2 separate regions of the Homo sapiens genome follow, and region 1 is linked to region 2. The links come from fine-mapping of genetic effects on gene expression. A gene starts in region 2. The other region holds a variant in brackets. All regions are shown on one strand. Distances are between the middles of the regions. Region 1 has its middle 22 kb from the start of LINC03034. Region 2 holds the start of LINC03034 (long intergenic non-protein coding RNA 3034).

Region 1 (2,900 bases), 22 kb after region 2:
GGTCTTGAGACGTGGGCTTCTCTCCATTCTGTTTTAGAAACAAAAAAAGCAAAAATGCATGATTTCAAGGCGGAGAGGAAGTCTTTGGCTGTTCCATGTTCTTTTCCCTTGTCTCAGGCATGCAGCCTTGCCTGGGAAGGGGCCTGCAGACCTTGGAGGACTTGCTCAGCGCAATGGACAAGCAGCCCTTCTGTCAAACACTCCCCATAGGAAGGTAAAATCAGGTCCCGTGGGTTACCAGAGGGTCGAGCCTCTCCAGTGGGGACTTGCCCAAGTCGCTGTGCGTGCAACTGCACATCCTTGCAGGCAGTTTCTTGCATATTTCCAGTTTCCAGCAGCACCCTGCATTACAGAGCCTGCTTCAGAGTAAGCCCCTAGACCCAGAGCTGGCTCCCAGAGGAACAGGATCGCTAGAACTTATTAGAGCCCCTAATAGAACATCCTGCCACTGACATGCTACTCGCCTTCCAGAAAAACTTGAAGATCCTCAGAGATAGGTGCCCAGAAATCATGGGTTAAAACTGATTTTGGACTTCACAAAAGTTTGATTCTGAGCCTGGAGCACCCAGTCCTGAGCTGAGCATTCTCCTCAAAGCTGGGACTCCAGTCTCCATGTGCCCCATGTGCACTCCGAAAGGTGGCTTCCAGAGTGTTCCAAGCCACCAGGGTTTGAGCAGGGCCATATGACCACATTTGTTTGCATGTATCTCCAAACAGTGAGAGATCATAGTGAAGGGTGCCTTTGGCTTCAGTCTGGGGATAATGCTTTTAGTCCTAGGAGCAGCTGAATTCTTCCCCCAGATCCAAAATTTTGGTCATGTTCCCAGAAGGCAGCCCAGCTGGGGAAAATGATGAAGGCGGAGGCTGGCTTCCTGTGGGGTCACAAGAACCTGCAGGTGATGGGGCGAAGGTCTCCTCCAGCATGTTCTTCCACTGGTCGCGTTACATGCAAAATGCCTTCTCAACACCCCTTGTCTTCTCCAGCAAATAGATGTCTCTGGGCTGGCTCAGTTTAGACTCACTCAAGACCAATTCTCTACACATACTTGCCTCAAGTTATTTCTCCACAAACCTGGCATGTAGGTAATGATACAGATGAGGAAACTGAGGCTCAGAGACTTGAAGTGGTGGGGGCAGGGATTTGATTCCAAAGCTCACGCCCTTGACTCAATTGCTATCTGCCTCCCTGCTGTGTTGAACAACTGGCCCTGTGACAGATATAGTAGCATCATCTCCAGACTGCACGAGAGAGACTGAGCCCGGGGAGTTAGCTAATCAATTAGGATCACAGAGCTTATTAGTGATGGATCAGGACCCACCAGCTGTTAGCTGGCCCCGTGTTTGGTCCCCCATCCCCATTGTGATGGTTTTAAAATAGTCCACAAATGCTTTGCTATTCTTCCCATCAAATCTCCTCTCCATGAGTGTGGGCTGTACTTAGTGACTCACTTCTAATGAATAGTATGTAGAGAAATGATAGTGTGGAAAAAATAGTTACTTAC[G/A]TTTAGGGGTTGTTCTCTCGCACAGCGTGTGTCTATCTGCAAATAACTCACAGCTCCTGGAGGACAGTAATCTTGTCATAGTCATTTCTTTTATTCCCAGTACCTTGCGCTCTGCCTAGCATATAATAGCTGCTTGATAATTATTTTAATACACAAATGAATGAAAGAAATCATGCAAAATGTTGTCATTGTCATTTCTCCAAAGATATTTATGGGTTCAGATACATCAGCGACTTAGAAATGTTGTTAAAGCTTAGATTTCACCAAGAGAAATCATTAGCAACTCTCTACCATGGTAGGGTCAAAGCTGGGGGCTTACAAAATACAATGTTCAATGTGAATCCTCTAGCTTTTCCACCTAAATCTGTGAAGAGTCCAGATGCTAACTTAAGCCAGAATTATTTTCTTCTTTTTCAGGAAAATCAAAAAATTTTTAGACTCACAAGTACTATGAACTCAGAGTAAGAGATAACTTTCCTATGAAGAGCTATTCCAAAATTTTTATTTTTCTTTTTTTCCTTTTTTTTTTTTTTACACTGAGTTTTACTCTTGTTGCCCAGGCTGGAGTGCAATGGTGCAATGTCGGCTCACTGAAACCTCCACCTCCCAGGTTCAAGCGATTCTCGTGCCTCAGTCTCCCAAGTAGCTGGGATTATAGGCATGTACCACCACACCTGGTTAATTTTTGTATTTTTAGTAGAGACAGGGTTTTGCCATGTTAGCCAGGCTGGCCTCGAATTCCTGACAGGTGATCTGCCTGCCTCAACCTCCCAAAGTGCTGGAATTACAGGTGTGAGCCACAACACCCAGGCTTTTTTTTTGCGGGGGGTGATGGGGGGTCTCACTATGTTGCCCAGGATGGTCTTAAACTTCTGGCTTTAAGCTATCCACCTCAGCCTTCCAAAGTGCTGGGATTACAGGCATGAGCCACTGCACTTATCCTCCAATGTTTTAATAAATAATAAAGCATTTAGGCCGGATGCAGTGTCTCATGCCTGTAATCCCAGCACTTTGGGAGGCCAAGGTGAGCAGATCATGAGGTCAGGAGTTCAAAACCAGCCTGGCCAGCATGGTGAAACCTTGTCTCTACTAAAAATACAAAAATTAGCCAGTCATGGTGGCTCGCTTCTATAGTCCCAGCTACTCAGGAGGCTGAGGCAGGAGAATCACTTGAACCTGGGAGACAGAGGTTGCAGTGAGCCAAGATCACGGCACTGCACTCCAGCCTGGGCGACACAGCAAGACTCTGTCTCAAAAAATAAATAAATAAATAAATAAAGCATTTAATAAAATGCTATTTTGCAGGGGGATTTCTTTTGTCATTTGCCAATGAGTGTTATATATTAAATATTTTAAGCAAACATACTAACTTTAAAATTGTATAATAAAATATATATA
Region 2 (2,833 bases):
CTGTGCCGTGGGCTGGCTGGTGTACCCAGGAGACCTCAGCTCACACCCTCCTGGGAAGGACTGCCGGCCACTTCATAGGTGGAGCACAGAGGTGCTGGCTCCACCCCCTGTGTGTGCGTGGCACTCTGTAGTCACCAGCCTGGCTGTCTGCCTCCTTGTTCCAGGCATGGTCTCAATGGCCTCAGACCCTCCCTCCTGAGCCTGATTAAGAAGCAAAGCACCCTGCAGTAGGGGACACTCTTCTTAGGAGGAGGCGGCAATTCTCACTAATAAGTGCTTTTCTTCTACCACATCATGTACATTAAGTGGTTTTTTTTTTTTGTTTTGCTTTTTTGTTTTTTTGTTTTGTTTTTGTTTTTGTTTTTTTGGATACAGAGTCTTGCTCTGTTGCCCAGGCTGGAGTGCAGCGGTGCAATCTTTGCTCACTGGACCCTCCGTCTCCCGGGTTCAAGCGATTCTCCTGCCTCAGCCTCCTGAGTAGCTGGAACTACAGGTGTGCGCCACCACACCCAGCTAATTTTTGTATATTTAGTAGAGACAGGCAGGGTTTCACCATGTTGGCCAGGCTGGTCTCGAACTCCTGACCTCAAGTGATCTGCCTGCCTCGCCCTCCTAAGTGTATATTTTTCTTTTCTTTTTTTTTTTTTTGAGACGGAGTCTCGCTCTGTCACTAGGCTGGAGTGCAGTGGTGCCATCTCAGCTCACTGCAACCTCTGCCTCCCGGGTTCAAGCGATTCTCCTTTCTCAGCCTCATGAGTAGCTGGGATTACACACGTGCGCCACCAAACCCAGCTAATTTTTGTATTTTTAGTAGAGACGGGGTTTCACCATGTTGCCCAGGATGGTCTAGATCTCTTGACCTTGTGATCCACCCACCTCGGCCTCCCAAAGTGCTGGGATTACAGGCATGAGCCACCGCGCCTGGCCGTGTATATTTTTCTAAATAGACACCTGACCATGCTTAGGTCATCCATCGAAATTCCCTAGCACTTGCTGGCTTCCCTGAATTCAACTGAATTGCGCGTGCCCACTGCTGCTGCATAACCTATGGCGGGCACAGCCATGGGATAAAGTGGGCAGTGTGCACACATTCCCCGCACAGTCTGTGGCCTGGCCAAGCCCCTGGGCATTCGAGGCTCCCGGCAAGGCTTCGTGTCCCGACAGTTTTGGGTAGGGGCACGAGGTGGGTGAGCCCGGATCCCAGCAGCAGGCATGGCTCCCTGGGTTTTCATGTCATCTGTGCCCCCTTCTACCAGGATCCTGCAGCAGCTGAAGGGAGACCCCTCTCCTTTTAAGGGTTAAACCCCCAGTGGCACAGAGCAACTTACCTGCCCTTGCATGGTGAACACTCCCATCTTTATCACATCAGTAATTCTTGCTAAAAGCAGATGTAATTTTGAAGGTGGGTAAAAGTAACTTGAAAAGTTGGTGGGCAGATGGCAGAGAGCCTGCTCATCCTTCTTTCAAACTGTCATCAGCTGCACAGGTCTCAGCTGCCATCTCATACTATTATTATTGCTATTTTGCATGTGTGCACACCTCTTTCTGTGGGTGTGGAGGGAGGGGACTGAGCAAAGCCTCAGGGAGGCCACATACGTTCTCAGCGCCATGCTTGGCTGGTGACTGGTCATGCACCATTGGCAGGGCCTGGAGCACGTGCAAGGAACAGAGTTCCCGGCTCTGCACACTCAACATGTGTGTTTCATACTGTCACCTGGCTGGCTCCTCTTTCTGGGTCTGTGTGAGCAGAACAGAACACACACTGGGGACAGAGCTTGCCCGAGGGGCTGCCCAGGTTATTTCCATCTTGGTGATGATGACACCACCCTGAGCTCATTTCTTCTTCACAGCAATCCCAGGAGATGGGAACCACTGTTATCCCCATTTTCTTGATAGGTAGACTGAGATGTGAGTGAGGGGAACAGATGGGACAAAGCTAGGACCCAAGGACAGGTGAAGGCAAGGAGGGACGATGCTGCTAATAATCAAGGCCATTCATTTGGTCCCACCCAGAAGCCTGGGCAAGTGGAGACAGCTGGCACTACAGAGGCCATGGGGCAGGGGCAGTGGAGGCCAAACCAGGGGGCTTGATCAGCACTCTGTCTGGGAAGCCATTGAGATCCCAGGTTCCTTCCACAGCATGCCTCAGACAAGCCTGGAAGTTTGTTCTTTGGGGAAATTGTAGAAAGGAGGCTCTAGGCTCAGGGGCTGAAGGACAGCAGAAGGCAGGGGTGGGGTTCTGGACTAAAAAGGGGTCGAGGTATAAGAAGAAAGACTTCACCTACACTGAGGAGATCCCCAAGACCCCCTCCCGACTCTACTCCCAGGAAGTTGGCAGCATGACCTACAAGTACCAGGCAGGACATATGTTCCTAGAGAGGAGACCTAAACATGTTTGCAGGTAAGGGTTGCCCAACAAAGAATCTGCTATAGCCACCAGTCTATAACCATCCCCTGCCAGCAAGAAGTCTTCAGTGAGCTCTTCAGGGCTGTGCCCTTGGAGATGAACCAACTGCCCACGGTCACTGAACACAGGAGTGAAGCAGCCAACATGGAGCACAACCAGCAACACATAGGGAAGAGGCACTCAGAGGAAGCAGAGGGAAGGGGCAGAGCAAAGCTCAACATGAAGCCCCTGTCAGTCACATTCTTGGGAGCTGATAGAGGAGATTGCATCCAGGAAACAAGAATGGCATTCTAGGCTGGGTGTGGTGGCTCACACCTGTAATCCCAACACTTTGGGAGGCTGAGGCGGGCAGATCACCAGAGGTCAGGAGTTCGAGACCAGCCTGGCCAACATGGTGAAACCCTGTCTCTACTTAAAATACAAAAA

What was found.
Region 1: its variant is fine-mapped to the expression of LINC03034 in lung (TOPMed, PIP 0.97).

The regions. Positions count from the first base shown.
Region 1 is chr15:31,251,116-31,254,015 of GRCh38, forward strand. No RefSeq gene overlaps it. Among named protein-coding and RNA genes, the nearest start is that of LINC03034, 22 kb to the left of the region's middle. The variant G/A (reference allele first, on the strand shown) is at 1,503.
Region 2 is chr15:31,229,379-31,232,211 of GRCh38, forward strand. It overlaps LINC03034 (long intergenic non-protein coding RNA 3034), which reads right to left and starts at 1,484. Exons shown (of 4, transcript NR_171016.1): 1 at 1,329-1,484.